Linked DNA regions of Homo sapiens. Changing the gene in region 4 together with the main gene of any one other region gives a genetic interaction. Each region holds a gene or a part of one and is shown on either strand. Other genes may lie near its edges. The genes, in order: EMC2, NDUFB2, MRPL22, METTL17 and GNL3L.

Evidence for each region.
Region 1: changes in METTL17 (region 4) and EMC2 together harm fitness more than expected from each alone (negative genetic interaction), as found in Homo sapiens cells (one large-scale study listed by BioGRID).
Region 2: changes in METTL17 (region 4) and NDUFB2 together harm fitness less than expected from each alone (positive genetic interaction), as found in Homo sapiens cells (one large-scale study listed by BioGRID).
Region 3: changes in METTL17 (region 4) and MRPL22 together harm fitness less than expected from each alone (positive genetic interaction), as found in Homo sapiens cells (one large-scale study listed by BioGRID).
Region 5: changes in METTL17 (region 4) and GNL3L together harm fitness more than expected from each alone (negative genetic interaction), as found in Homo sapiens cells (one large-scale study listed by BioGRID).

What each region holds. Positions count from the first base shown.
Region 1 is NC_000008.11:108,485,035-108,488,623, reverse strand, and holds part of EMC2 (ER membrane protein complex subunit 2), read right to left. Parts: intron 2,113-3,589; coding exon 2,026-2,112; 3' UTR 1-2,025. UniProt on the Homo sapiens protein: Part of the endoplasmic reticulum membrane protein complex (EMC) that enables the energy-independent insertion into endoplasmic reticulum membranes of newly synthesized membrane proteins.
Region 2 is NC_000007.14:140,699,678-140,703,266, reverse strand, and holds part of NDUFB2 (NADH dehydrogenase [ubiquinone] 1 beta subcomplex subunit 2, mitochondrial precursor), read right to left. Parts: intron 402-3,589; coding exon 257-401; intron 1-256. UniProt on the Homo sapiens protein: Accessory subunit of the mitochondrial membrane respiratory chain NADH dehydrogenase (Complex I), that is believed not to be involved in catalysis. Complex I functions in the transfer of electrons from NADH to the respiratory chain.
Region 3 is NC_000005.10:154,954,546-154,958,134, forward strand, and holds part of MRPL22 (large ribosomal subunit protein uL22m), read left to right. Parts: intron 1-1,825; coding exon 1,826-1,891; intron 1,892-2,589; coding exon 2,590-2,667; intron 2,668-3,589.
Region 4 is NC_000014.9:20,992,925-20,995,291, reverse strand, and holds part of METTL17 (ribosome assembly protein METTL17, mitochondrial isoform 2 precursor), read right to left. Parts: intron 2,175-2,367; coding exon 2,101-2,174; intron 1,324-2,100; coding exon 1,229-1,323; intron 750-1,228; coding exon 679-749; intron 499-678; coding exon 391-498; intron 128-390; coding exon 59-127; intron 1-58. UniProt on the Homo sapiens protein: Mitochondrial ribosome (mitoribosome) assembly factor. Binds at the interface of the head and body domains of the mitochondrial small ribosomal subunit (mt-SSU), occluding the mRNA channel and preventing compaction of the head domain towards the body.
Region 5 is NC_000023.11:54,561,219-54,564,592, reverse strand, and holds part of GNL3L (guanine nucleotide-binding protein-like 3-like protein), read right to left. Parts: 3' UTR 1-3,374.

The DNA.
Region 1 (3,589 bases), on a different chromosome or scaffold from region 4:
TAAAGAAGAAATAAAGGTAATAGCTGTAGGCAACTGCCTGCTGTAATGGGATTATCAGTACATTTAAGTTGAAGTTTATAAATAACTAAGGATTGGCAATGTGCTTAACAAATATAAAATCTTGGAAAGAAGTTATTAAAATTTTGAAAAAATAAAGTGATACTGGCCAGGCTCAGTGGCTCATGCCTGTAATCCCAGCATTTCGGGAGGCTGAGGCGGGTAGATCACTTGAGGCCAGGAGTTTCAGACCAGCCTGGCCAACATGGTGAAACCCCATCTCTACTAAAAATACAAAATTAGCCAGGCATGGTGGCACATGCCTGTAGTCCCAGCTACTCAGAGGCTGAGGCACAAGAATCGCTTGAACCCGGGAGGAGGTTGCAGTGAGCTGCGATCACGTCACTGCACTCCAGCCTGGGTGACAGAACGAGACTGTCTCAAAAAAAAAAAAAAAAAAGTGAAACTAAGGCAGACAGCTATAAGAGGCACTGAATTACTTATTACACAAATATAATTGCTAGAGTAAACACTAATCCAGTGACTGACGGGGAGGAGGTTTGAAGGGGAAAAGGTAGTGAAACAACGTGCAGGCACTATTTTCTTTACAGAAAATGTAAATTTCAAATGGTTCATCATGTTGAAAATGCAGTTACTAATTTCATGTGTACAAAGACGGGATCTTTGTGGTAATAAAGATTAGTAGAGAATTACCTTCAGATGAGAAGAGTTCTTTCACAGAATATATTAATCAGCTGCCTATTACTCGTGGCAGAATAAAACGAAAATGACTGTAATATGAAAGATTAGACTAGATATGGAGAATAATTTATTAGCAGAACTATTCAAAAGGTTAAAAGAAGCTGATATTGACAATACTTTTCTTTCTAAACACTTCTAGATTGTCAATTCCTCCACAATCCCCACTTGTCCAAAGCAGCAATGACAAGTCTGTAGATGCCTCTGTATATTTTTAGTAAAAATAAATTTAAATATATTTATTATAAACAAATACCATAAATATTTGCGGTGAACAGTTGCTATTTTAAAAACTGATTTGTGTCTAAATGAAATTTAACTTTCAAGTCTCTTCTATTTTGTTGAAACATGTCAAATACTGTTGAAGGTAGCATAATGGTTGTTTATTATGAAAAGAGAAAAATAAAAAATTCTAACTAAGGTAATGATAGAATAGGAAAATTTTAACATTTTTGTTTCTAAGGATAGTTTTAATTTTCTTATTTTTTTCAAAATTAAAAATAACTACAACCCCTTTAATCCCTACTCTTTATGATTCTTTAATATTCTTTCATGTAATTTACTATTAAAGGATTCAATAAATATAACTTGCATAAAAGTTAAAGTGTCGTAACACATATTTATCTTAAGGCATTTTATATGTAAAAATCTCAATTATGTCCTATATCAAAACAAAAATTTTACAAAGAAATATTGCTGAACTTTGGAGAATGACATATTTTAAGCAAGATTCATCAGAAGGATATTACAGCAGATAAAACAATTCAAATAGCCCACTGGAATGTACAGCAAAATCCAATTCGACAATATAAACAAAGTCAAAATAATCTGCTTCGGTCAGCTACATATGCTGTGACTTTGCTATCACCAGTAAGGAGTTAACTAGAAACTGAGTTCTTAAACAATATATCCACTGTGAGTATAACAAAATGAAGTTAGAATCTTCATATGCAAGTTTAATAAATCATCATGGTTTATTTAACAAGGTTATACTACATTAGAGTTTTATATATATACATGTATATGTGATATGAAGAGACTGATGTACAATCAATAAGTCTTAAATCTCTCTTCCATGGATTTCCCCCATCTCCCCACTTAGCAGTAAAAGGCATTTTTAGGTTTATATAAACACATTCTTTACAACTGCCTTCTTAACAGAAAATTACTGTAGTATATAAATAGCACTGAGCATTTAGTAAATAAGTTACAGGCCAATAAGTTCAATTGTGCAGTTGTGAAATCTAATGTCAAAGAGTTTTTGAAACCTTAAGACTGGGTGATCTGCAATGTTTCCAACATGTCTTCGACAGCCTTAAGAGAATATTTGGTTTCCTTCTTACTTCGACCTGCAAACTAATTAAAAAAAAAAAAAAAAAGCTCAATTAGGCTCAATTTCAGTGGCAGGTTAAAAATGACAATCTTCACACTGTTAATGAAACTTAACATTGACTATTTTATCACTAGTAGGAAATCAAATATATTCTTTGCTTTTTCAATAAGAATAAAATTTGAGTATTAAGGACATTTTCCTTTAAGGTCTTACCTTCAGCTGAAGTGTACAGAGAGTTCACTGCACACTTGGCCAGTTTAAGTGTTTACATAATATAATAACCCATAAAATCATGTATTTGAAACTATCTTATTCAGACCAAAATAATGAAATAAAAAGTATAATTTTAAAATGCAATTTAGCTTATATTTATGTAGTGTAGCAGTGTGAACCACTTCCACTTGTCTGATGTCTAAACAGATTTTTACAATTTCAAACAAAGGTACAATACAAATACAAGTTATTTCACTAAACATTTTAAAGTTGCAAGTACTCTCTAAAATTATTTAAAGTAGCTCATAATTTTTTTTAAGTTTCCAGATTTATTAGTTAACTAAATGATATGGTTCTGCAAAGAGCTGTCAAGTAAAAACCTATGCTACACATTAAAACAATGTAAACATGTTTTAAAATATGCATTTCTACTTTATTAATTGTAATTTATTTACATTATAAAACTAATTGGGATTGGATTTTACTATGAAAACAAAATAAATACATCAATATATACACAAAATATACCCTATATTTGTGTATTTAAAAGCAAATTCATGGCATATTAAATTCAATATCATACACATAACCGCTGGAGGGAAACACTGTTGAATACCACATGCTGATTTCAAAATGAGTTTGTTAACTGGACTGACAATTCCCATCATTTATCAGTCTGATTTAAAACAAAAGATTTACTAGATAAGTAAGTGTTCCTTGATGGAGATGGGAGAAAGTTTATTGTGTGTGTATGTGTGTGTGTGTGTATATATATATACATATATATATTATATATATGTATATATATTAATTATATATTATGTATATATTTTATATATATATGTTACCTATATATATTATATATATGTATATATATTAATTATATATTATGTATATATTTTATATATATATATGTTACCCATTTTCTCCCTGGTTAAATATGATTAAAATACTTGGTATTAGCAACATCTAGTGTTTTCAAGTTAACATCAAACCACTCAATACATTTTCAAGTGAATGATCATTTCTTCAAGTAACAATGCTGTCTTAAGCACTTAGTACTTGATTTATGATGTGTTTCTTGTCTTCTGTAATTAACTTAATTTGGCAAACTTCTCATGACCTGTTCAGAAAGATTAAGTGATCAAACACAGGTAACATCATAGAAGTAACAAGCTTCAGGAATTGGTAACCTGTCTCTGACCCCTCTGGCTACAGCTTAACATTATGATTCCCTCACTTCCTACACTCTAAACCATTAGATTAGTTTCTGTAGCTGAATCCTGA
Region 2 (3,589 bases), on a different chromosome or scaffold from region 4:
TTAGTCTCCCTAAGATGGCAACCTAACAGAAACCATAAGAAACGGACCACCTAAATATACATCCTCGTGTAAAAAAAGGTGAGAAGATAACATGTTTCATTAAATAACAGGATTCTTGTATATACATATGGAAAAAGTGGTGGCAAAGGGCGATGTCCAGACAGAAAAATGGTCTACAACAGAAAAATAAACAAGCTATTAATACATCCTCCCTCCCCCACCCAAAAAACGACAAGTGCTCTTCTCCTGCACTTACCAGCACCTCTTCTGAGTCATGCCAAAAGCGCCAGAGAATCCAGAACCACATGAGTCCGCTGAAGAACTCGCTCTGGAACACCTGGGATCTGGTCAGCTGGGGGAACTGTCTATACCGGGGCTCAATGTGCACACCACCACCGGCACTGCAAGACAAAACAACATGGCAGACAGCGTGCTACATTCTCAAAGCGTTAAGTCATCCAAAACTCCTCTGAGTTACATCCTAGAACCAACGCTAATGTTTCTCATCTCCACTGAAATATAGACAGAAGTTCACAATCCCTTGAAATACTCACTTTTTACTAAGCTTGCTTCATGTGTAGCAGCAAAAACTGACCAAAACTGACAAGAGGCTAATTTTGGTTTTCAATTAGTGAAGATTCATTATTTTGCACTAGAAATTTGAATGTGTTGATTCTGGGGTGCTAGCCCCAAAGGTTTTAGTTAAGGGACTGTGAACTTGTTAGCAGGTCACTAACTTACTCAGAAAAATAAATTAATTTTGCTTTGTTTAGCTATCTATTTGAGGCAAATTATGTCCTCTGCCTATTACAATCTTTATTAAAAGACAACCATATGGGAGAGAGGACTCGCAAATCCTATTAAATATGCTAATGGCTCTGAACAAAGAACTTTAAACAGTAAGTTTGAATACGTGTTTCTTTTTTCTTCTTTTCATTCAGACACTTGACAAGTTGTGGCACAGAGTCCATAAGAGTTATAGTCAATTTATTCAGTTGGAGTATAAATATTATACGTTGCATCTAATTTAAATTATTTGCACCTACTGGGGCTATTCCTAAAACCTATTCATCAGCCATATATATGCTAATAAACAGAAGTGGATAAAAAATTTTTAAGAGAATTCCTATATAAAATATGTTTACCAATTTCATCTAGATAAGAATCAGCTTGTAAACCATATTCTCTTTTATGTAGCACAGAAATTCGTACCTGTAGGAAAAGTGCATTAAAATATCTTGTCTTCATAATGCACAGATTCGTGAACAGTAACAGGGCAGTGGTTCTTGATACATGTTAGCTAGGACTGTTTGTTTTCTTTGTTTGTTTGTTTGCGAGAGTCTCACTCTGTCACCCAGGCTGGAGTGCAATGGAACAATCTTGGCTCACTGCAACCTCCGCCTCCTGGGTTCAAGCGATCCTCCTGCCTCAGCCTCCCAAGTAGCTGGGACTACAGGTGTACGCCACCATGCCCAGCTAATTTTTGTTTTTTTTTTAGTAGAGACGGGGTTTCCCCGTGTTGGCCAGACTGGTCTCGAACTCCTGACCTTAGGTGATCCACCCACCTTGGCCTCCCAAAGTGCTGGGATTACAGGCGTGAGCCACGTGCCCGGCTGTTTTGTTTGTTTTTTTAAAGATAGGCTCTGTCGCCCAGGCTAGAGTGCAGTGGCGTGACCTTAGCTCAAGCGATCCTTCTGCTGACTGAGCACCTCCTGGGCTCAAGCAATCCTCCTGCCTCAGCCTCCCTCCCAAGTAGCTGGGATTACATACAAGTGTACACCCCCAGACCTGGCTAATTTTTATATTTTTTTTGTAGAGACAGGGTTTCCCTATGTTGCCAGGCTGGCAGACTGTTTTTATCCTCCCCCACTCTAAAAGATGACTGGTAGTTATTGAGTGTTTACCATGTGCCAGATACCACACTAAGCATTTTATAAGTTTTAATTCATTTAATTTTCATAATGTTATGATAAGGCCTGTAATTATTAATGATTTACCAGTGAGATGCTGTGTGATGGCAAAGCCTAAGCTGTTGCCTACAGACACACACCATTAACAATTTTCTCCTTTTATTAATCAAAGACATAACTTTTAACTAGAATTCCAACCAGCATGATAAAACCAATGTTACCATATTGAAATGATAAATTCCATTTTTTTTTCTAAATAGTCATCCAAAATTTAACACTTTTATTTGGAATGCTCTATTTAAGGTATTAATAACTAATTATGAATAAGGTGATTTTTAGTTTTTGCAGATGTGTGTATATATGTACTTTTTTAAGTATCATGTTTAAAAGGTCCTACCAAATATCGCCACTTTACAACTTGAATGACGTAGCATACTGTTTCCGTAATGTCCTCATATACCAATTATATTATTCATTCAGGATCTAGCTGTGCATATAGATATTACATTATGTAAATAAACCATGCAGGATCATTCAATATAGTATAACAAGAGCTTTTTTTTTTTTTTGAGACGGAGTCGCACTCTGTCACCCAGGCTGGAGTGCAGTGACACAATCTTGGCTCACTGCAACCTCTGCCTCCCAGTTCGAGCAATTCTCCTGCCTCAGCCTCCCGAGTAGCTGGGATTACAGGCATGTGCCACCATGCCCGGCTAATTTTTGTATTTTTAGTAGATACAGGGATTCGTTATGTTGGCCAGGCTGGTCTCGAACTCCTGACCTCAGGTGATCCGCCTGCCCTGACCTCCCAAAGTGCTGGGATTATAGGCGTGAGCCACACTGTGCCCGGCCAAGAGCCTTCTTCTTTGATAGCTTTTTGATACAATCTAGGTATAAGTGCCCAGCAGTAAAACTGATTAAAACAAGATTTGAAGGCCGGACACGGTGGCTTATGCCTGTAATCCCAGCATTTTGGGAGGCCGAGGCAGGCGGATCACCTGAGGTCGGGAGTTCGAGACCACCCTGACCAACGTGGAAAAACCTCGTCTCTACTAAAAATACAAAATTAGCTGGGCATGGTGGTACATGCATGTAATCCCAGCTACTCAGGAGGCTGAAGCAGGAGAATCACTTGAACCTGGGAGACAGAGGATGTGGTGAGCTGAGATCGTGCCATTGCACTCCAGCCTGGGCAACAAGAGCGAAATTCTGTATCAAAAAAACAAAAAAGATCTGAGTAATGCCGATGCCAGCATTATAGTTCAAACCCATCTTAGCAGCTCCCCACGCTTCGTTATTGCTAGAGTGACATGTTGTTTTAATCATAACCTGAAGTAGGGACTGCAAAATGGAAACCTTTTGGAACAAAGATTTGAAAGTCTGCAATTATATCACAGGAACAATGACAAGGATTGCCATGATTAAGGAATGCAAAGACTCAACACCTAATTCACAATGTTATGTTCCAAACCAGGTTGTGAACTGCATTGTGGCAAACTAGATACCCTGAACAACCCTCCAAATTAACAACTCTGCTGCTAGATGAGATTTTTAAGATTTTTACAAACATCACTGACCAGGCACAAAAGGAAGGAATCCACCAAGAGCAAAATTCAAGTAAAAACAAGGCCTGGAAGCTAAGCAATCAATCACTGAAGCTGCCTTCACCGGGAGCCCTT
Region 3 (3,589 bases), on a different chromosome or scaffold from region 4:
TTGTCTCGTTTATCTTTAGAAAGTGCCCTTAGACATTTCACCTGCCCAAAGTAAATGCTGAGGTTTTTTTTCAGTTTTGGAAGAGGATGATTAACTTTTGCCTTTCTTGTAAACACTTCTTCCTTTTTGCCATCCTCTGGTCAGGATTACCATTGTTTATATGTGTAAAATTTGAGGGTAATCATACAAAATTAAGGTTTAAAATTATCCCACCACAAGAATGCACAAATTAAAGGGTCTCTTCTTTTTTATTTTTATTTTTTTGAGACGGAGTCTCGCTCTGTCGCCCAGGCTGGAGTGCAGTGGCGCAATCTCAGCTCACTACAAGCTCCACCTCCCGGGTTCATGGCATTCTCCCGCCTCAGCCTCCCGGGTAGCTGGGACCACAGGCGCCGGCCACCATGCCCGGCTAATTTTTTTTTTTTGTATTTTTAGTAGAGACGGGGTTTCACCATTCACAGGATGGTCTCGATCTCCTGACCTTGTGATCCGGCCGCCTCGGCCTCCCAAAGTGCTGGGATTACAGGCTGAGCCACTGCTCCCGGCCAAGGGTCTCTTCTATATGAAAGATTTCATTGAGTGGATTAATTTTTGCAGATTATTATTATCAGTCATGATAGTTCTTTCCTCTCCCTGTCTCCCCAAGAAACTTTATTGCTGAAAATGTAATTAGGCTATTGCTATAGTTTCAGGCTGTCTGCTTCTATTGCAACTGAAATCTGCCACATATTAAAAGATGGCCACTTGAGAAAACTGCTCTTTCTAAGGCATTTGAAAATTTCCAGCAGGAGTCAGAATGTTAGAAAGTTTTGAGACCTCCTTGCTATAGTTTTCCATAACACATGTTTTCTAATTTTTTTTTAAATGGCAGTTTGGTATAGTAGTGGAAAGAAAGTGGGTTTTAGAGTCAATAGAGGAACTTTTGAAAGTAGATGTGCTAGACATTGTATCAGGTGTATCATACTTCTCTGTTCTTTGAATTCCAACTTTGTCTCTTGCAAACCTCTGGTCTTAGACAAGTCACTTGATTTCTCTGATTTTCAGTTTATATGTAAAATGTTTCATCCCTCAACTCATAGAGTTAGACTAAATGAAATAATGAGTGAAAAGTGCTTTTTGAACTATACATTGTAATTAAACAGGACATACCTACAACTTTAAATAGAAGATAATAAAAGCTAACATTTACTGAGAAGTTACCATGTGCCAAGCACTATAAAATGGTTTCTTGAAATAGGTTACTTTATTTCCCTCTAATTATCGTTTTATTTATTTTACAGAAGAGGAAAATTAGAGAGAGGTTAAGTAGCTTGCTCAAGATTATGTAGCTAGTAAATGGCAGAGTTAGGATTCAAATCCAGGCAGGCAGTCTGATTCTAGAACCTATGCTGTTGGCCAAACACCTAGAATATTGGCTTTTCACATGAAAACACTTGTCCATTTTGCCATTTTTCTCCTCATTAATAATGAACGTTTTCTTGTACTTTTTCTTTTGTTCTTTTAATCAGCTAAATGTTTTAAAGATACTTTCATTTAAATCTTTTAGGATTTCTTTGGATAGAAATGTTGCAAGTGTTGACACAAACCAGCCATTGTATAGTTTCTATTTCTCCCGTAGTAATCTTTTAACATAGTGAGACTTTGGAAAAATACAACTTTGTGTAGGGGAAAATAATCTCTAAATTCTTAGTAATGTTTCTATTTCTTATGGCAGCATTTTCTTTAGGCCTAGAAAGTAAAAACTTAAATAACAGTATATGTTATTGTCATTTTGTGGTAAACCTGCTAACATTTTCTTTCTGTCCTTTTTTTTCCAATTTGTAAGGAAATCTACCACTGTCGAAGACAAATAAAATATAGCAAAGACAAGATGTGGTATTTGGCAAAATTGGTAAGCTGCAATGACTATTACCATATAATTAATAATTTAGGAAAGAAGCTATGAGTTCCCCTCCCCACCCCTCACCCCAGGATTTGAAAAATAAAAAAGATTTGTGAGGAATGTGATATAATTGGTAGGTTGTCAAAAGAATGATTGTTCAGAGATGTATGATTTTCCTTAATTTTCACCTTTTTCTGAGAAACTAAATCACATTGGATAGATAGATACTAAAAGGCATCAGGAGTTTGGCTATAACCAGAGAATCCAGGAAACCCACCTATTTATCTGTAAACTTGATTCAACCTGTTTTAAAACTGTTGCTTTTAAGTTTTTTTCCCTAGGAAATGAAATTTATAGATGAGGGGAGACTGAAGCAGCAAATATACATGTAATACATTTATCCTATAGGAGAAGGAGATGCCTTGAATGCCTAGTGTGGTTGTTACCAACCTGTGGTCTCTCTGTCATGTTTGCTGTCTTTTAATGTTATTGAAACTATTATAATCTCAGTTTTATGGTTAAAATGTTTGTTTCATTTTGACTGAAAGAGAATAGTGTCTCCTCTCAAACTTGTTTTCTTCTCTTTTATTTGGGTTCAATTCACTGTTTTTAGAAGTTACTCAAATTATGTAAGACTTTCATTGAAAAGGAAACATTGACTTTGTAAACTAATTTATTTTCTTTTGTCTCTCACCCTTTAATTCTAGATACGAGGAATGTCTATTGACCAGGCTTTGGCTCAGTTGGAATTCAATGACAAAAAAGGGGCCAAAATAATTAAAGAGGTAAACTTACAAGTTTGGGTGTGGTAGGGAATGGGGAACTGGGGAATGCAGCTGTCTTGCAATTATTAGTAAGCTTAGCCTAAATCATGAATTCCCTAAATTTTCTGTTGTAAATGCATACTTTATATAATACAGATTTAGGGTTCTCAGTTTATTAAATATGTGTATACTTTAGGAATGTTGTGTGCTTTAGGGTTTATTTCCTGAGGTGCTTTTATTTCCACCAAATATTTATCTGTTTTTTACTGCTTATGATGTGATGAATCTTATTTTTAATGATTTGGGGCTTGGTACGTATATGTGTGTATTTGTGTGTATGTATGTGTGTTTGTGTATATAATTTATTTCTTGGAGCAAGGCTGAACTTCAAGGTATATTTTTTTGAAGATTTTTTTTTTCCTATAAAGGAGAGTTTTTATAACTAAGTAATTTTGTAACTAAATGGAAAGAGCCCTGGACTGGAACTCAAGAGACTTGGACTCTAGTCCTTTCTCTGATCTTTTTCTTGTGACCGTGGGCAAGACACTTAACCAGTCAGTTTCTATTTTTCTCACCTAAACTATGTGGAATTGGATTAGATGACCCCTAAAGATCCTTCCAACTCTAAATGTAGCTAATTCACTAGATACAAATGTGCTGATGGTAATTGTGGTGACTCTTTCTAGGAACATGAATATTCTTTTTTTATTACATATATTTTTCTTTTTTTTTTTTTTTTTTTTGAGACGGAGTCTAGCTCTGTTGCACAGGCTGGGGTGCAGTGGCGCCATCTTGGCTCACTGCAGTCTCCGCCTCCTGCGTTCAAGCGATTCTTCTGCCTCAGCCTCCCGAGTAGCTGGGACTACAGCTGCGCGCCACCATACGCGGCTAATATTTTTGTATTTTTAGTAGAGATGGGATTTCACCATATTGGCCAGGCTGG
Region 4 (2,367 bases):
GAGAGTAACAGTAATTGGTGCCATATGGGTGGGGGAGTGAGGGAAGAAGAAGCCTTACCTTAAGGACCAGATCCCTGGCATCCATGAGAAGGCTGTGCCCAGCTTTTGTTCCATTCTCCACCAGTACCTGTTCACAAAAGGGGAAAATATGCAGAAGACTTGAATTACACGAAAGTATAAATGTCAGTAGCTGTGTAAGAGCAATCATAGAGGGAGAAGGAGTCCTAAAAAGAAATAGGCATTACATAATCAGGATGGAGACCCTCAAAGAGGGATAAAGAAACCCATGAAGGAGAAAAATGGTGAAGAATAAAGACAATGAGAGGAGCAAAGGCATGAAATCCATGAAGCTGCTTCAAGACTTAAGGAGAACAAGGAATTTTAACTCACCAGGAAATGACCTGTCTTACGCCATAAGGTTTGAACTACCTCAGTGCGGTCAGCCTTGCTGGGCAGTTCACTTAAGGAAAAAGCTGACACTACTACATCAAACTGCACCTGAGGACCAAGACAAGGAACATGACAGACTCAACATCTCTACATCCCAAGAATACAACAAAGTCCTAGCCGCTAAATTTCTTTTATCTTCTAACACTCAGTGCTGGGCTGCAAAGCTCAAGCCATAGTTTTCCATCTGCCACATTCCACATTTAGAATATTCTAAACACTGCCACTTGCCTTGGGTGATACAGGTAGAAACTGTCTGAAAAAGACACCTGGAATATAAGGCTCCCCAGATTCTGAACCACCTGTGGAGAAAAGAAGAGGCAACTGTGAGTGTGTAGGAAGTTAGGTATAAACTGAAGAGATATCCAGATAAGAAACATGGCCCCAAGAATAGGTAAAGTGTATATCAAAAAGGGCAGGGATGAGCCAGGTATGGCGGTGCGTGCCTGTAATCCCAGCTACCCTAGAGGCTGAAGTGGGAGGATGGCTTGAGGCCAGGAGTTTGAGACCAGCCTGGGTAACATATGGAGACCCTACCTCTAATTAAAAAAAAAAAAAAAAGGGCAGGGAGAATATTAGGCCTCCTGTCCTTTGATTCTTACCCAACCCATCCTCAGTCCAGCAGAAACCTCTAATACCACCCTTTGCTTGACTATAACTTTAAAAGTAAACCAGATTCATCTTAATTTTTACCCTCTTCTCTACTTCCCAGTAAAACACTTTTACTAGTACCCCTTTGCTTTCTTAACTCCCTCAACTTTGGAAGTGCTCTTGCACTCACCTTTCAGTAGTTTTTCTGCCAAAACCAACATGGCAGCTGATCTGTCCACACACATATATTCACGTAGGCTCTGGCCCCAAATACTGTGAGCAGCCCTAAGATGGCAAAATTATTATAAATCACCAATTCCCATGACCAAGAGTCATCTCTACAAGAGGCCCATTTACACCCAACCCCACCCCTGGGAAAAGAGAGTGTTATGTTAAAGTAGTTGTATAGTTAGTAATAAAATAACTAATAGTGTTATTTTCTTGTTTTATTTACAACTCCTAAAAAAAAAAAGGTAGACTCAGCTGGGCACAGTGGCTCATGCTTGTAATCCCAGCACTTTGGGAGGCCAAGGTGGGCGGATCACAAGGTCAGGAGTTAGAGACCAGCCTGGCCAATATGGTGAAACCCCGTCTCTACTAAAAATACAAAAATTAGCTGGGTGTGGTGGCGTGCACCTGTAGTCCCAGCTACTCGGGAGGGTGAGGCAGGAGAATCACTTGAACCCAGGAGTGGAGGCTGCAGTGAGCCGAGATTGTGCCACTGCACTCCAGCCTGGGCGACAGAGTGAGACACCGTTTCAAAAAAGAAAAAAAAAAGGTAGACTCAAAATACTATTTGTAGGCAAAAACAACTTTGATTGATAATTCCTTTTCTTTTTAATTTTTCTACACATGCGCCTTTTTTTACTTGACATTTCTTTTAAGTTCTGGCCCCAATCCATATACCTTCTTCTGCCTTGCCTAATCTGATGGAAGAAACATTATAGATTCCCAACTTGCCTATTCTCCCTCTGGTTTTCCAGTCTGTTAATTTTGGAGTGGTGTAAGTATGGCTTTCTAGAGCTAAAATTGACCAAGATAGGGCTGAAGAAAGTTACTCACCAGGTGACAGAACCAGTACCTGAGCCAAAGTCCATCAAAGTTTGTGGCTGAAATGCTGGATTTCGAGCCCGGATCTGAAGAAATATACAACATCCCACAGTAGGGTAATTAGATACTTATTTAGGACCTTGATAAATGTGAATTAGGAGGCTATCACAGAGGATGTGAGATGTGAATGCCTTTTGAGATTCAATACAAATACCTTATGGGATAAGAATCTCCTAAAATAGTGATTCTAAACCTTTCTTGGGTCACAGAAAGCTTTCA
Region 5 (3,374 bases), on a different chromosome or scaffold from region 4:
CTACTAAAAATACAAAAATTAGCTGGGCGTGGTGGCGGGCGCCCATAATCCCAGCTACTCGGGAGGCTGAGGCAGGAGAACCGCTTGAACCCTGGAGGCGGAGGTTGCAGTGAACCGAGATCACGCCACTGCACCACTCCAGCCTGGACAACAGAGCTAGACTCTGTCTCAAAAAAAAAAAAAAAAAAAAGAGAACGAAGAAAAAAACCAGTGACTGCCAGGGTTTGGGTGTAGGGGACTGGTTTTGACTACAAAGTAGCAGGAATAAATTTGGTAGGGAGAGGCTAAGAGGACTGTTCTGTACCTTGGTTGCATTGGTGGTTACACAACTCTACACATTTATCAGAGCTTTATAGAACTGTATACCAGAGTGAATTTTACTGTAATGTAAATGTTTATAATTTTTAAAACCTGAAGGCATAAAATAAGCCTACTCATTGTATGATTCTATTGATATGACAGTCATACTAAAGCAAAACTATAGGGGCAGAAAACAAATCAGTGGTTAGCAGAATCTGAGGGTCGGGGGTAGGAGTTGACTACAAAAGGGCCTGGAGAGTTTTAGGGGGGTGATGCAACTATATTTCGATTGTGGTAGTGGTTCACTCCTGTATATGTTTGTACAAACTCACATAACTAAAACTATAAAGAGTGAACTTTACTATATGTAAATTGTACCCTAATTGTTTTGAAAAATGAAGGTAAAAAGTTAAGAAAATACTTTTTTAAAAAAAACCTTTGAGATATGCTGTAGGTAGAGAAACTGCACTCCCAACGTCTTTTTTGTTTTCCTCTTTTTTTTTCCCCCTGAGACAGTCTCACTCTGTTGCCCACGCTGGAGAGCAGTGGCACAATCTCGGCTCAATGCAGCATCGACCTCCTGGGCTCAAGAGATCCTCCTGCCTCAGCCCCATAGGTAGCTGGGACTACAGGCATGAGACACCATGCCCAGCTAATCTTTGTATTTTTTTGGTAGAGATGAGGTTTCGCCATATTGTTTAGGCTGGTCTTGAACTCCTGACCTCAAGTGATCCGCCTGCCTCGGCCTCCCAAAATGCTGGGATTACAGGTGAGAGCTATCGTAACTGGCCTGCAGTCCCAAATTCTTACCGACATGACTACTTTAGTTCTGTTTGATTTTGGCCAAATTATGCTCCCATGCTGTTTCTTACTCATTTAGATACTTCCATTTCTAATATTTACCTCCCAGCACTTCTCCATTACCGATGGGGTCACCTCCTGATAAACCCGTAATTTGCACATTACAATGGGTTTACCAGGAAGTAGCCCCATCATAAGTAGAGGTGCATTCTGAATGTATACTGCTTTTCCACCAAAAATCCCACATCAAACCACCAAAAGTCGGGGACTGTCTGTATTTTAAATGCTAAATTATGAAACGCTGTATGGTTGCAAAATAGACTTAGCTGTCCTGGTATGCAATTTTTCATTATAACACTATCACATACCAGGAGAGTTCAATGAGATAGTGTGAAATAAGTTGTAGCCTATTCAAGAGCACATAGTTTTAGCAAGACACTAAAAACTAGTAGTTTAAGAAACTAGAGTTTTTTAAACCAAAAAAGAAAAAATTTAACGTTAAATGCATTTAACGGACTTGATAACAGAGACTGGCACAAAGTAGGGGCTTAATCAATCTTCCTTTGTTAAGGAGGCAGTACAATATAGAGGAAAGGGCCTGCATAGGGTTTTAATCACGCTTGGGTTCCAATCCTAGCACCACCACTTAATACGCCCACTTGGGTCTGGCCATCCTGTCAACTTTTTTTTTTTTTTTCCGAGACGAAGTCTCACTCTGTCCCCCAGGCTGGAGTGCAGTGGTGTGATGTCGACTCACTGCAACCTCCGCCTCCTGAGATCAAGTGATTCTCCTGCCTCAGCCTCCTGCATAACTGGGATTACAGGTGTGAGCCACCATGCTCGGCCAACATTCTGAGATTACTTTTTTTTTTCATTTGGGGAGACGAATCCCTTACTAGCAGAGCTGTATTGAGGGTTAACGGTGGTAATGGGTCTCCAGGGCTTGGTGCAGTTTGTACTCAACAAGTACGTAATTCTCTCCTTTGGTTGCCCCTGAATACAAGAGTGGTCTTGTACTTCCCTGCCTGAACAGTCCACAGCCAATGGCACTCCAGTCCTTGTCACATGGTTCCACTCTTAGGATGTAAATTAGGAGGTACCAGCTTGAGAGGCAGAGGCAAAGGTAAGGTTAAGATGCAGCTGTGAGGCTGGGCACAGTGGCTCACGCCTATAATCCCAGCACTTTGGGAGGCCGAAGCGAGTGGATCACTTGAGGTCAAGAGTTCGAGACCAGCCTGGTCAACATGGTGAAACATCGTCTCTACTAAAAATACAAAAACTAGCCAGGCGTGGTGGCAGGTGCCTGTAATCCCAGCTACTTGGGAGGCTAAGGCAGGAGGATCACTTGAACCCGGGAGGCAGAGGTTGCAGTGAGCCGAGATCACGCCATTGCACTCCAGCCTGGGCAACAGAGCAAAATAAATAAATAAAGGTGCAGCTGTGGGTCGAAGGATGGTGTGGAAGTTTGGGGTAGACATCCAAGACTGCAGTAATGCTATGCCCAGGGTATATTTTGGGGCAAAACCCCCAAAATACCCTGGCAAAGAAAGAAGATTGTGTTTCAGTTGCAATCATCTACCCTAATCCCTTTCTGAGGGCCTCTGGCACTGCTTGGGCTCACTGCCCTTGTCTGATGGGGTAGGATCTCCCAGAGGAGACAGCTAATTATACTTTAATGAGGTGACTTACAGACACTGGAAAAGGAGTTGGCTGGTACACTCCCATATATAGCAGCTCTCTCGAGGATACAGTCTGTGAATAAATGGTACCAGAACCCTCTTGAGCCATGGAATTCAAATGCTGGTGCAATAGGAGACATGGTCACACAAGGGCAGGGTCCAGCCAGAGTACTTCAGTTAAAGAGATTCCTCCAATTCACAATCTGCCCAGAAATGCCCCCAAGACGGGGCTTCCCCCTAAAGCCTCCCTACTAACAGGTGCTTTGTTTTCTCTTCACGCAAACAGGGTAGTGCCTACCACACTTCAGCACAAGCCAGGCTTGTTTGTTCTCTTCTTCCCTCTACCCTATCCCTAGAACCTTCCAGAGACACAGGAGGCTCATTACTTTCTACTTTTTCTCACTGCCACCCAGGTGAAGACCTATGGACTTGGAAGATGCATGGCCCAAAGCCCACTGCAGGCATGCCTTGCCACTGAAATCTCCTGTGGGGTGGTAAAGAAACCATCACCCTCCCGCAGGGACCCCCAGGTCTACCAGCAACCTAACTTCTAGTGGCATATTCACCTGTCTAAGAGAGTTTTGTAGGCAGAGT